Homo sapiens: one gene and its partner. The protein of the gene in region 1 purifies or fractionates together with the protein of each later gene. This does not show direct contact. Each region holds a gene or a part of one and is shown in the gene's direction. Other genes may lie near its edges.

Region 1 (7,021 bases):
TAGCTGCAAAATTTTATTTTTAAACGTTTTTTCTGAACTTAACAAACTGCAAGTGAAACCAATTACACTAATTTTTGACAAACTTTTTTCTAAAAAGGTGCCTTCCCAAATTAAATTTCAAGACAGGTTTGATTCAAACATCCTCCAAAACTGTGCGGGTTGTATATGACTGAAGTTTAGTTAATGGCAAAACACTGAACTAAACCAATTATGAGTAAAAAATAATTATTAGGTATTAAGAGTCAGCCAAAACAATGCTAAATACCAGTATTTAATATTATTTTATATTCCTGGGAACTTCTTGTTACTTCAAATGTACTAAGAAACCTGTCTTTACTTTCCTTGTCATTATTTCACTTTTTACAGAAAATTGATGATTGTCAGAGCTGTTAAGGTTTTTCAGTGACCTTAACCAGAAGCTGGTACAATTTTAATATGTTTAAATTAATAACTATGAATTAGTCTTTTAAAAATAATAGAGTATTGGAAGAGGCTTTTTCTTCTTTTCAGTTGTGTAAGACTGAGGATTTTAAGCACAATGTTGAAAGTTCTGTCCCTTACCTTGTACATGATAAGTGATTATGAAATAAGGAGACATAGTAATTGTTGCCTTTCTTTTTGTAGGTGATAAATTAGAAGAGTTTCTTAGATCGCTAAACAGCAGTAAGCCTCTCTACCTGGGACAGACTGGCCTGGGGAATATTGAAGAGCTTGGAAAGCTGGGACTGGAGCCTGGGGAAAACTTCTGTATGGGAGGACCTGGCATGATCTTTAGCCGAGAAGTTCTCAGGAGGATGGTGCCACATATTGGTGAATGCCTTAGAGAAATGTACACGACTCATGAGGATGTGGAAGTAGGAAGATGCGTTCGCCGTTTTGGTGGGACTCAGTGTGTCTGGTCTTACGAGGTAAGCATGGAGCTGTGATGAAAATGTTCACATAGTACATATACATGCCATTTTATAATCTAGGGCAGCGATTCTATTCATTCTCTCTGTATCTTTGTATTTACTTGAAAGTGATAGTAGCAGCCCTTAAGGGATACAAGAGTGGGAGATAACTTTCTCATTAGGTGTCAGGCCTGTCTGAGACTTTGTTATTAGCATGCCCCTTAACTTTAAGCAGTGGCCTATACTTATGGCCACATCTCTGGAAGATGCTTATATCCTCCCCTGCTTGATTTATTGGTGCTTATATACATGTGAATCTATTTCCCTTTTCTAACAAGAGGTTTAATTTTACTCTTCTCTTTAGCTGTAGCCTTTAGCATTTGGTACTGTGCCTTTTTATTTTATTTTATTTTATTTTGGTTAGGTGTGTAATGGCATCTCTTTGTTTTTAAATGGTTAAAATCTGAAGTTTCTTTGGATATTTTCCAGTGGAAATTTAACATATTTTTAAAAGTATCAGAAAAGTAAACTAATAGTGTATCATTTATGGTAGATGTATTCACAAAATTCCAATCACTGTATTTCCTTAGGCATACAAAAGGAATGAGTTGTCTGGAAAAAAGCAGAAGTTTAAATGGTGTGCAGTAGCTGCTTAGTATTTTTGACAGGTTCCCTAAAATTTGTTTATGTCTATTCTTATGCTATTTTCTGAAAAGGAACCATTATTTAAATAATCTTAGCTATTTATTTATTGCCGTGATCATTTTTATGAAATACTTAGAGATTTTTTCTTCAGAAATTGATTTTGAAATGTAATAACATTTTATTTAAAATAGATTTCCTAAAAGATAATTTTAGTAAAAATTTATTTAACATTAAAATAATGTATTGTTTTTAGTATAGTTTGGTTTTCAAGTAGTTGGAATTTAGTATTATTTTAGCTACGGAGTGCACAGCTTTGTAAATTATATCTTAACTCCTTTGCTTATGTTTTCAAACTTTTCATGTCACTTAGTATAGAAGAAACATTTTATGAAAATATGTTCCCTGTGAAGTCACCAAACACACAGTTTCATTTGTTTTTTTTGTATTGTAAGTGTAGTCTCACTATAGTTAATTTTGCTTTCTCTTTCATACTTTGTGGTATTTATACTTTGGGGACATATTTTATACATTACAGAAAGTAAAATTTATTAGTCATTTGAAATAGGCATGAAAATTTGAAATGATTATGTTGCTGATTTCTTTTGATAATAAAATGGTAATTTGTAAAAACTATCCTACAACTACCCTTTAGGATAAAAATTTATGTAAAAACATTACAGTTTAGAGACAGGTAATCTAGAATAAACTCAATAAAATATTTCTTCCTTTGTTATAAAACAAAGTAAAAGACAAAAATATTCAATACAGAGAACATATTCAGTTGATTTTGTTTACATGCTGTTATTGTTTTGCAGGTATTTACTTTGCATGGATAAGTAAAAAAATATTTGTGTGGATAAGTAAAAAAATCTCACCTGTAGTTAACAATATAGATGGGAAATTATTGTGTTTTATAGGATACTTTATTACCTTAACATAATATATAAAATTTTAACCAAGATAGTGTTTAGGTGTTCTTCTTTTCAAGTTCTCATTGATTCTGCTGTGAAGGCCTAGTCTTCACCTAGCATTCCATTCATTCATGTTCAAGACAGTAAGATATGCACAAAAATTGGGAGCTCAAAAATTGATTTAATATTTTATTTATAATATAGGCCTTTGTTCTGGTTAAAGTGAAGAGAAGTTATATTATAGATGTGCACCCTGTCTATTAGAATAAGTGCAATCTTAGATCCTTTTATTAACTGATGTAAGAGCAAACAAAAGAGATTCCAAGTCTTACAGGCTGTAACCTGGTGAATATAACATTTTCCATAACTTTTCGTAATACATTTGAATTTAGACTGACACTTGACCATCACTGACTTATGAATCCGTATAAAACTAAACTAATTGTCTCAACATGTTTTCCTAGCATTATAAAATATTTTCTAGATAAGTACTGTTGACTTTATGTTTTGCTAAGTTATTATATAGAATTTACTTTGTATTGGGATTTCAGTCATTAAAGGAGCTATTTAAACAGTATTTATTTAAGGGAGGCATTGATTTAATTCTAATAAAAAATCTCAAAAGTCTTATATAGAGAAATGATGGTAAATTTTATTACCAAGAGATATGTGAAAAAGCATTGTTAGCAAAACTAGTAAAGATACATATACAAAGAGATTATATCTAAATTTTAATACTAGATTGTGTTCTATGTTTCATGAGACACCTAAGTACGTAACTTGGGGCACAGCTAAACTGGTTATAACATTCACAGATCCCATACTTCACTTTCTAATTTGGATTTTATGTTAGTGGAAATGGTGTCCATATATGATACTGTTCATATTATATAGAAAGATTGGTCTATTCTACTCCAGGTTGGCATTCTCAGTAAAGGTGAGATTTTACATCTGCTCATTAAAAAAGCTATGAAATTGATCATTACTTTTTTTCCCATAGTTCTTTTAAAAGCACTATCTGTGATAGAATTTTGGTAAATTTTTAAATTTCTTTTATCTATGCCTTTCACAAATTTTAGGATTTTTTTTTTTTTTTTTGGTTTATCCTCCTAACAAAAGTTCTTTCAGAGTTGAGAGTCCTGTTAAGGTGGCATGTTCATGATTTTTAAGTTTGAATAGATGAAGTGTTCATGATAGAATGTCATCTTTTAAAAATGGTGAACGTGCTTACAGATCTTATAAAAAGAGAATTGAAATAATTATTAAATAAAATATATAATTGTATAGTTTCCTTGAATATAAGTTATATTTTTTAAAAATCCAGGATTGAAGCTTCTAGTATTCTTCTTAACTGCTAAACTGAAATTACTTTCTCTGTGTTTGTATATACTATTAAAAATATGTTGTAAAAGAGAAAGAGAGAGAAAGGTAATAGCGGGATATGAACTGGGGTTTGAGCCACCATCCTAACACTTACTAGTTTAATTGTCTTTTGCAAGTTACTTCTTTAAGTCGTGTGTAATTCAACTGAAAGTGGAGATTTTAAGAGTGTTTATCTCATACATTTCAGGAAAGATTAGGTGAAATAATCCATGTAAAGCCCTTAATGTAGTGTCTGTCACATAGTAAATTTTCAGTAGATGTTAGTTTTTATTGTTCTAATGTTATAGATATCACGTACTATATTATACAACATGGATTCATATATTTCACTTAATAATCATTAGTAATGGATGGGTGATTCATTTACATCAAAAGGGTCAAAATAAAAAATAAATTCTCAGAGAGTTAAGCTTTTTTTGGCAAAGAATAAGAAACCAGTATGTTGCAGTATTTTAGAAATATGAGGAATTCAGTATTAGTAAAACTTACTATGGGCTGGGCGCAGTGGCTCATGCCTGTAATCCCAGCACTTTGGGAGGCTGACGCGGGCGGATCACTAGGTCAGGAGATCGAGACCATCCTGGCTAACATGGTGAAACCCCGTCTCTACTAAAAATACAAAAAATTAGCCAGGCGTGGTGGCGGGCGCCTGTAGTCCCAGCTACTTGGGAGGCTGAGGCAGGAGAATGGCGTGAACCCGGGAGGCGGAGCTTGCAGTGAGCCGAGATAGCCCACTGCACTCCAGTCTGGGAGACAGCAAGACTCCGTCTCAAAGAAACAAACAAACAACAACAACAAAAAAACTTACTATGAAATATGGACACCTGTTTTAAAAATGCATTACAAATATCTGTTTCAGTCTTTGCACCTAATATGTATAAGATATATATAACTGAATTTGAGGATGTTGTGTGGAAAATATTACTTAACAAGTTATTATTTAATATACATATATAAAGAATCCCAAACAGATCTACATAAGGAAAAAAATTACAGTATAGATTTCTAAATTAATTGCCAGAACAATGGCCCCCTTTTTTGAATTTCTCTGGCATCTTCAGTAGGGAAGGAAGTGAGTAGTATCTCATTCTCCAGTCAACTCATGAACACCCAGGGGCTTGTCTCTCAAGGCAGTGGGAACCTCCTCCTGGTGTACCTCAGGTCTTTGAGGTAATGATCTGCAGCTTCTGGCCTTTCTCTCAATAAGGCCCAGGTGGTCTGGGGAAATATGTCTTGCTTGTTGGTCTCTTGCTCTTTTTCTCTGTCTTCTCTGCTCACTTTTTCTATTTCCTTCCGCTTGGTGATAGATAAAATAAATTTCAAATGTATTTTGATATGTACTGCTTTTCACCAGGTTCCTAGTAAATTAATGTGCTCATATAGGCCAATCCAGATATCTTAAAAGATCACTGGATGTGCACCCAGACCACAGTAGATCACAGTTAGGCCTCCAGCATGGTCTGACCTGTTCAGAATAAAGAGGCCTTTGGTTGAGGGTGAGCCTTATACAGACTGGTTCTTTGTGTGCCTGTGATCATTGGAGAGTCTAAATTGAGATTCTCCCTTTCCCACTTAGGATTGAGGCATCTTGTTTTAAGGCCATATGGCAGATGTTAATAACCAACAGACTTCATGGGTTATACCTCAAACTTTATAAGCAAAGATTACTAACTGAATGAAGCATGCATTCTATTCTATTCACTCTGCAAGTGTTAGAATTTATTGGCCTCTCCTGTTGGCAAAGATCACACTTTTGGTTGAGCTCTATCTTGGCTACTGCTTTTCTAGAGCTGCAATCTGGCAGTTTGGGAGGCTGCATATGGCTCTTAAACACTGTTTGGCACATAGAGTATTTTAAGGTTTTTTGCTTTTGTTTTTGTTTTTTGACACCTTTAGCAGAGGCAGGCAATCTACAGTTCCCTTCATGTCCTCTTATTATTTGTAAGACTCTTCTTTCACGTTTATTTTCCCTGCCTGGCTTACATAGGCATAAAAGTTTTGATCTTTTGAACTAGATAATGCACATATTGCAAGTTTCATGATAATATTCTGTAGAAAATGAAGTGATTTTCCAGTGAGACTGAGAGGCATATTTAAAATACTTTAATTTATGGAAGAGTTAATATGTTACAAATTTGGCCATTAAAATTGTATATCATATAACATAGTTACATTTTATTATAGATATGTTTTTAGTAAATAACAAAAATATTCTCACTGTTAAAAATTATTTATACATTCATGTTCATTTTGTGTATTAGCAGAACTGAAAGTTTTGTTTTTTGATTTTGTTTTTAACAAGATCACTTATATTCAATTCATAAAATAATTTTAATTCTGATTATTGTTCTTCTCCCTTTGAAGGAGTTTTGCATTTCTTCTAAGAGTCAGTTTAAGAATAGTTTGTATTTATCATTTTAATGTTTGCAGTAAAATAGAGCCAAAGAAGATATCTATTTCATTCAATTAAATGTTATTTCAAAGACAGCAGGGTTCTATGTTGGTAAAAATATTTATCTGTAGTTTTAAAAATTATTTCATAAGACTAACTAGATTTTCATTAGACTCCTTAAAGTGATAATTTTACACTAGAATGTTTTATGTTCAATCTTAGTTTCTTAAAGTCTGTAAACACCCTAGGAAATTACATTATTTCACAAAAGGATATGTTCTGGAAGTGTTTTCCTGAGCTTGTAAGTAATATCAGAAAGCTGTACCATATGAAACTGAACTATCAATAAGTTCTTAATAACATATTTTTAAGGTTAAAATATCTGTGTTATTCTTATAGGGCTGCTGCACATCCTTCTTAGCTTCCTATTCCATATAAATTTCCCTTTTTTTTTGACACAGAGTTTCACTCTTGTCGTCCAGGCTGGAGTGCAATGCTGCAATCTTGGCTCACTGCAACCTCCCCCTCCCAGGTTCAAGTGATTCTCCTGCCTCAACCTCCCGAGTAGCTGGGATTACAGACATGCACCACCACACCCAGCTAACTTTGTATTTTTTTTAGTAGAGATGGGGTTTCTCCATGTTGGTCAGGATGGCCTCGAACTCCCAACCTCAGGTGATCTGCCTGCCTTGGCCTCCCAAAGTGCTGGGATTACAGGCGTAAGCCACCGCGCCCAGCCAAATTTCCCTCTTTTCTAATGTTGATTTTACTCAATCATGAACATGTTTATGCCCCCAAAG
Region 2 (7,372 bases), on another chromosome or scaffold:
CCGAAATCGTGCCACTGGACTCCAGCCTGGCGACAGAGTGAGACTCCCTCTCAAAAAAAAAAAAAAAAAAAAAAGCCTATTCTAAAAGTGCCATGGCTTTTGTTTGTTTTTAGTTATACACTTTTAATTAATGTATTTATTTTTACTTATACATATGTATTTTTGGAGATGGAGTCTCGGCTCTGTCACCCAGGCTGGAGTGCAGTGGTGCAATCAGCTCACTGCAACCTCCACCTCCCGGGTTTAAGCGATTCTCCTGCCTCAGCCTCCGAAGTAGCAGCTGGGATCACAGGCATGCACCACCATATCTGGCTAATTTTTGTATTTTTAGTAGAGAGGGCTTTCGCCATGTTGCCCAGGCTGGTCACTCTTGGCCTCAAGTGATCTGCCTGCCTGGGCCTCCCAAAGTGCTGGGATTACAGGAGTGAGCCACTGTGCCCAGCCAATTATATACACTTTTAATTTATTTTAAGTTTTCAGAAGTAAAGTGAGGATGGGAGATTTTTTTTTTTTTAATTGAAGGGGCCATGGGTTAAGAAAGTTTTCTGGCCGAGCGCAGTGGCTCACGCCTGTAATCCCAGCACTTTGGGAGGCCGAGGCGGGCAGATCATGAGGTCAGGAGATGGAGACCACCCTGGCTAACATGGTGAAACCCCGTCTCTACTAAAAATACAAAAAAAATTGTGGAGGCGCCTGTAGTCCCAGCTAATCGGGAGGCTGAGGCAGGAGAATGGTGTGAACCCAGGAGGCGGAGCTTGCAGTGAGCAGAGATCGCGCTACTGCACTCCAGCCTGGGGGACAGAGCAAGACTCTGTCTCAAAAAAAAAAAAAGTTTTCTAAGTTGTGTGGGCGCGGGGGCTCACGCCTGTAATTCTAGCACTTTGGGAGGCTGAGGAGGGTGGATTGCCTGAGCTCAGAAGTTTGTGACCAGCCTGAGCAACATGGTGAAACGCCATCTCTACTAAAATATGAAAAATTAAGGCTGGGCGCCGTGGCTTACGCCTGTAATCCCAGCACTTTGGGAGGCCGAGGTGGGCGGATCACGAGGCTGGGGTGGCATGTCTGACTGTGTGACACGTAGACAGACAGGGCCTCCGCAGGGAGCCATGCCCTACCCCCAGGTCCAGCTGGCTGTCTTCTTATAATACCCACCCGCCTTTTTCAAGACCAGTCTGGCCAACATAGTGAAACCCCTCTCTACTAAAAATACAAAAAAATTAGCCGGGTGTGGTGGTGTGCACCTGTAATCCCAGCTACTCGGGAGGCTGAGGCAGGAGAATCACGTGAACCTGGGAGGCAGAGGCGGAGGTTGCAGTGAGTTGAGATTGCTCCATTGCACTCCAGCCCAGGCAACAGTGTGAGACTGTGTCTCAAAAAACAAAAACAAACAAACAAACAAAAATTAGCTGGGCGTGGTGGCATGCGCCTGTAATCACAGCTACTTGGGAGGCTGAAGCAGGAGAATTGCTTGAACCCAGGAGGTTGCAGTGAGCTGAGATGGCACCACTGCACTCCAGCCTGGGCGACAGAGTGAGCCTCCAGCTAAAAAACAAAAAGTTTTCCAAGCTCAACACTCATGAGCTGGGCTCCCAGAGTCCCCATCAGGGATGACATCCCCTAAATCCCAACCCCTGCCTCACTCCTAGCAGTCAAGGGCTCAGGGCTGCACTTCTGGCTACTACCCTATATCTGAATTTGCCCACCAAGCAGACAGGTTTTAAGTCTGGACTGTTTCCTTCTCAGTGTTGTTATGAAGGCTTAAGCTCTGCATTAAGTTTCTACAAGTTCCACAGCATCAGGTCATATGGTTTTCCTCAGGGTCAATGTTAATGTGTGCTGAACTGGCTGGAGGACTGCCAGGCCCTGTGAGAAGCCTACGTTCATTCATCCATGTCCTTGGAGTCCTAACATCAGCCTTAGCAAGTAGGTCCTGTTTTTGTCTCCACTTTTCAGATAAGGAAAGTGATGCCTAAAGAGACAAAATTCTCTGTCCATGGTCATAGCCTGGATTTGAACCAGGGTCTTGGGACTCTTGGAGTTTGTAGGCTTACCCCAATATATGCCTGCCTCTAAAGTCATGGCCACTAATTTCCTGTGGGCTGAGTTGTGTGTTTCAGAGGAGGGTCTAAGAAACACTGACTTCTTTCAGTGTGCTGTGGGGTCTGTGTGTAACTGGGACCCTAGATTTACCCCTGAGGCTGGCATACAGCCCTGCCCTGTCCCCGCTAACAAAAGTGGACTTGCTGGGGCAGACCAAAGGCCTGGGTCAGACCAGGAGGCCACCTTACAAACCCCAAGGCTGGCAAAAATGGGCGGCCTGTGCCTCTGGCCTGGTGTACCTAAAATGGAGAGAGATGAGGGTTCCAGGAGAACCAGAGAGGGAGGAATGAAATTCCTCCAAGGAGCCCAGGGTGGCATGTCCGACTGTGTGACACGTAGACAGGGCCTCCGCAGGGAGCCACGCGCTACCCCCAGGTCCAGCCGGCTGTCTTCTTATAATACCCACCAGCCTTTTTCCCTGCCCACCAGCCGCTGAAAACTCCCACCCCCTCCAAAAAAAAGTTCTATTCCCTCTTCTCTGACCACAAAGGCACTGAAAACAGTGGAACCAGAAGGGGAGTCAGGGTGGGTGGAAAGGTACGGGGTCCAGGCTGATAGACCATCCCAGGGTTCTTAAGCAGCAGGGACCACCCCCTTCCCCCCAACACTGTAGATCAGAACACCCCTCTCCATCAGGTCATTACATACAGCCCTGGTAACTACACAAGGCAGTTCACCTTGATTATCGAGTCCTTTCCGGGATGTGGAGAGCTTGTGAGAAAGAAATGGGATCCTTTGAGAAGTGAGGGTTTGGAAGTGGGGGCAGGAGGGTATCTTTGGGGAGATGGGTGTCTGGGAGGCCCCAGGGGTGCTGTCTAGGGTTAGAGTATTGGGATGCAGAGCTTAAAAGAGGCAACAAGGAAACAGGACCCCGGGTTCAGGGGACGGAGTGGTGAATCCGGGGGCGCCCAACCGGGGTTACCTTGAATCAAACTTCTTGCCATCTTCAAAAGTGCCGTTGTAGTGGTAGCGCACAAAATCCCCCATCTGCACTTCCCGGGGACAGGCCCTGGGGATGTGGTACCTCTCGATGACCACATCTTCCAGGGGGCCCCCGGCCGGGCTGGCGCGGCCCAGCCCCCTCCCCACGGCCTGCACCACCAGTAGCAGCAACTGCAGCAGGGGGAGCCGGAGGAGGCTGTGGCTGGGGGGGCCCGCGGGGAACATGGTGCCTGGAGTTGGGACCGCCGGCAGTGAGGGCGAGCGAGGGAGTCGCCACCAACCTCCTTCCCCCCGCCTCCCAGAACTGGCTCCCCCTCTTCCTGTCCTCTTTCCCTACCCCCGCCCTGGCTGGTCCACGTGGAATGGGGGCTGGGAAGACTGAGCTGGCCTGGCCGGGAGGAGCGGGGGAGGGGGTTGCAATAGGAGGAGGGGGCCAGGCTGAGTGTGTTAGAGTCTGAGGGAGGCACTACAAAGAACTCTAGGTTCCCCCTCCCCCCATCTCCATCCCTGGCTGCGAGACCTGGGGCCTGGCCAGGGAGAGAGGCTCGGGAAAGATGAGAACTCTGAGTGGACACCAAAGGAAAAAAAAAAAAAAAAGTTCAATGACTTTTTCCGGAGCCCCCGGGTCCTAAAGCCGGGCGGAGATGAACCTTGCTTCTTTCGCGGGCACTTCGAATTCTAGTCCCCTCCAGGTGGGTGGTGAAGCCGCGGAGTGTGAGAGGCATCTCCGTGCTCATCCGTGACCCCAGCTGTACTCCAAGGGAAGGCATCTCCAGGGAAGAGCAGCTTGGTCCCGCAAAAGCTGGACTGAAAGAAGGACTTTGTGACTTGGGATGTGACGGGCACGGAGATGGAGTGGGGGGTGGTGGCAGCGCAAGGTGTGCAGGTGACAGCAGGTGTGTGCCTCCGACGTGGGCGGGGGAGACACTCGGAGGGTGCAGGAGGGCGCAGCGACGGAAGGCCCGGCTCCAGGGCTTCCTTCTCGTATGGGCAGCGCAGAGGAGGCGGCCCTCACTCAGTGTCCTGATCTCAGGCGGGGGCACTGTTTGCATGGGGAGGGGCTTCCTGGGCTTCCCATCTCTGGCGGGAAGCGCTCCCCGACGCATTCTCTACCTAGGGGACACCCCCAAGGCAGGAGCCCGGGCCGACGGAGAGGACTTAACGACACTATCGGACCCTCTGGGAAAAGAGGGGAGACGTCGTGACCCAGGCCCCGCCCCACCTTGCCGCCTCGTGCCCGGCGCTAAGACCCAGCGGGCGCGCCGCCCGCCCGGGGCCCGGCCCTGTCCCCTTCCGTCCGCGGGGCAGCCAGCTCAGCTCCGGAGAGCCGGCGGCGCGGCGGGCATGGCTCGGGTGGCGTGGGGGCTGCTGTGGTTGCTGCTGGGCAGCGCCGGGGCGCAGTACGAGAAGTACAGCTTCCGGGGCTTCCCGCCCGAGGACCTGATGCCGCTGGCCGCGGCGTACGGGCACGCTCTGGAGCAGTACGAGGGAGAGAGCTGGCGCGAGAGCGCGCGCTACCTGGAGGCGGCGCTGCGGCTGCACCGGCTCCTGCGCGACAGCGAGGCCTTCTGCCACGCCAACTGCAGCGGCCCCGCGCCCGCGGCCAAGCCCGATCCCGACGGCGGCCGCGCAGACGAGTGGGCCTGCGAGCTGCGGCTCTTCGGCCGCGTCCTGGAGCGAGCCGCCTGCCTGCGGCGCTGCAAGCGGACGCTGCCCGCCTTCCAGGTGCCCTACCCGCCGCGGCAGCTGCTGCGTGACTTCCAGAGCCGCCTGCCCTACCAGTACCTGCACTACGCGCTGTTCAAGGTGGGAGCCCGCCCCCACCCGGGGACCTGTCTCGGGCTGGGCGTCGTGGCTCCCCACAGATCGGTCGAAGGAGCGTTATCTTCACCCAAGGCACGAAGCCCGCCGTGCGCTCGGGGCCGCGAGCTCCGGTCTTGCTGACCCGCTCCCCCACCCCCTACCCCCCGACCAGGCTAACCGGCTGGAGAAGGCGGTGGCGGCGGCCTACACCTTCCTCCAGAGGAACCCGAAGCACGAGCTGACCGCCAAGTATCTCAACTACTATCAGGGGATGCTGGACGTCGCCGACGAGTCCCTCACGGACCTAGAGGCCCAGCCCTACGAGGTGGGGTGGAGGGTCAGGAGGAGGCTTGTAGAGGAGGGCTAGTAGAGGAGGGGAGATGTTGGGGGCGCCCTGACTCCCCCTGCCACGCCCCTTCCAGGCCGTGTTCCTCCGGGCTGTGAAGCTCTACAACAGCGGGGATTTCCGCAGCAGCACGGAGGACATGGAGCGGGCCTTGTCAGAGTACCTGGCAGTCTTTGCCCGGTGCCTGGCCGGCTGTGAAGGGGCCCATGAGCAGGTGGACTTCAAGGACTTCTACCCGGCCATAGCAGGTATCTGCCACCCAGACCACGGTGGGCGGTCCTCTCACCCACAGGGCCCGGTAAGGCAGATGTCCCCTTCATGCACGTGGAGCACTGCGAATGCGGAGGAGCCAGCCGGGAGGAAGGCCTTGTCTGTTGAGAAAGACGCTGGGTGCAGGGGCCCCAGCTGGGAGTGTCCAAGGGGCTGGATCAGTGAGTAGAGGCAGTGACATCCCTAAAGGGTTTGGGAAGCTTGGGTTCATAGGCCTTCCAGGCAGAGGGCAGTGCAGATGCAAAGGTGCAGCGGTGAGAAGTAACCCAGCAGATGTGTGCAGAAAGCAGTTGATAACCAGAAATTACACCTAGTCTTGGGATCTCTAACCCTGGGGTCCCTCGAGCAGGGGCAGAAAGGACTGTACTTGGCCAGGTGTGGTGGCTCACACCTGTAATCTCAGCACTCTGGGAGGCCGAGGCAGGCAGATCACGAGGTCAGGAGTTCAAGACCAGCCTGACCAACATGGTGAAACCCCGTCTCTACTGAAAGTACAAAAATTAGCTGGTCGTGGTGGCGGGCACCTGTAATCCCAGCTACTCGGGAGGCTGAGGCAGGAGAATCGCTTGAACCTGGGAGGCGGAGGTTGCATTGAGCCCAGATCGCGCCACTGCACTCCAGCCTGGTCGACAGGGCGAGACTCTGTCTCAAAAAAAAAAAAAAAAAAAAAAGACTGTCCTTTAGCTTCTCTGTTTGGACTTCTGCCCCATTTCTGGACCTCACCTGCTGCTCTCCCAGAATGCCCTGGCTCCCTCTGGCTTGGGGTGGTGGTTGAGTGGCAGGGGTGGTGAGTCAGCCCAGCCCACAGTCATCTTCCTCACCATCACTTGTCATATAGTATGCCAAGCACTTTACAGACATTCTCTCCTGTGATTGCAACAGCAACACATTTTCTGGACAAGCAGCTTGGCTTAGTAGGCAGAGATTGGATTTAGAGTCTTCTCCACTGGGGGGACGGAGATGTTCATTGCAATGCCAGCCTCTCACTGCTGCCTCCCACCCTCAGATCTCTTTGCAGAGTCCCTGCAGTGCAAGGTGGACTGTGAGGCCAATTTGACCCCCAATGTGGGTGGCTACTTCGTGGACAAGTTCGTGGCCACCATGTACCACTACCTGCAGTTTGCCTACTATAAGTGTGAGCCCCCTGGGTGGGCTGGCTTGGGCAGGGGACGAGGTGATAAGGGAGAGGACTGTATGGGAGCCTCCCAGAGTTGTGGGGAGCTTTCCTTCAGTATTGAGGACCCTGGGTGATAGGAGGAAAGTCTAGGGGTGGTGGGAATATGGGGAAGGCACCCTGGGAGTCTGGGGCAGGTGAGAGGCTTCTGAGTGAGAACAGACAGCAGCCTCAGGGAGAAGAAGAGGGTCTTTTGGGCAAATGACTAGACAACCAACAACTGCAGAGCACTTGACAGTTTATTTTTATTTTTGAAACGGAGTTTCACTCTTGCCCAGGCTAGAGTGCAGGGGCACGATCTCGGCTCACTGCAACCGCTGCCTCCCGGATTCAAGTGATTCTCTTAGCCTCCTGAGTAGCTGGGATTATAGGTGCCTGCCACCACACCCAGCTAGTTTTTGTATTTTTAGTAGAGACGGGGTTTCACCATGTTGGCCAGGCTGGTCTTGAACTCCTGACCTCAGGTGATCCACTGCCTCAGCCTCCCAAAGTGCTGGGATTATAGGCATGAGCCACCATGACCGGCCAACACTTGAGAGTTTATAAGTCACTTTATCTTATGTGGTCCTTTCACCAACACCATGCAGCTGGCATTACTGGACCGATTTTTCAGATGGGGAAACTGAGGCTTATAGGGCAAGGGGCTGTTGGTCTTATGACTAATAAAAAGTGGCACCAGGACTTGTGGCTCTCCTCACTGGAGAGATCCTGGCATCCACTGGGGCTGGAATGGACAG

The links. The genes of interacting proteins can lie anywhere in the genome.
Region 2: the proteins of CHSY3 (region 1) and P3H4 purify together in Homo sapiens (affinity purification with mass spectrometry; 2 studies listed by BioGRID and IntAct, with this or other methods). This does not show direct contact.

What each region holds. Positions count from the first base shown.
Region 1 is NC_000005.10:129,907,453-129,914,473, forward strand, and holds part of CHSY3 (chondroitin sulfate synthase 3), read left to right. Parts: intron 1-624; coding exon 625-908; intron 909-7,021. UniProt on the Homo sapiens protein: Has both beta-1,3-glucuronic acid and beta-1,4-N-acetylgalactosamine transferase activity. Transfers glucuronic acid (GlcUA) from UDP-GlcUA and N-acetylgalactosamine (GalNAc) from UDP-GalNAc to the non-reducing end of the elongating chondroitin polymer.
Region 2 is NC_000017.11:41,808,930-41,816,301, reverse strand, and holds the start of P3H4 (endoplasmic reticulum protein SC65 precursor), read left to right. Parts: upstream 1-4,352; 5' UTR 4,353-4,386; coding exon 4,387-4,848; intron 4,849-5,017; coding exon 5,018-5,170; intron 5,171-5,267; coding exon 5,268-5,439; coding exon of another isoform or gene 5,440-5,622; intron 5,623-6,467; coding exon 6,468-6,596; intron 6,597-7,372. Other genes in the region: peptidyl-prolyl cis-trans isomerase FKBP10, read right to left, coding at 3,023-3,267. UniProt on the Homo sapiens protein: Part of a complex composed of PLOD1, P3H3 and P3H4 that catalyzes hydroxylation of lysine residues in collagen alpha chains and is required for normal assembly and cross-linking of collagen fibrils.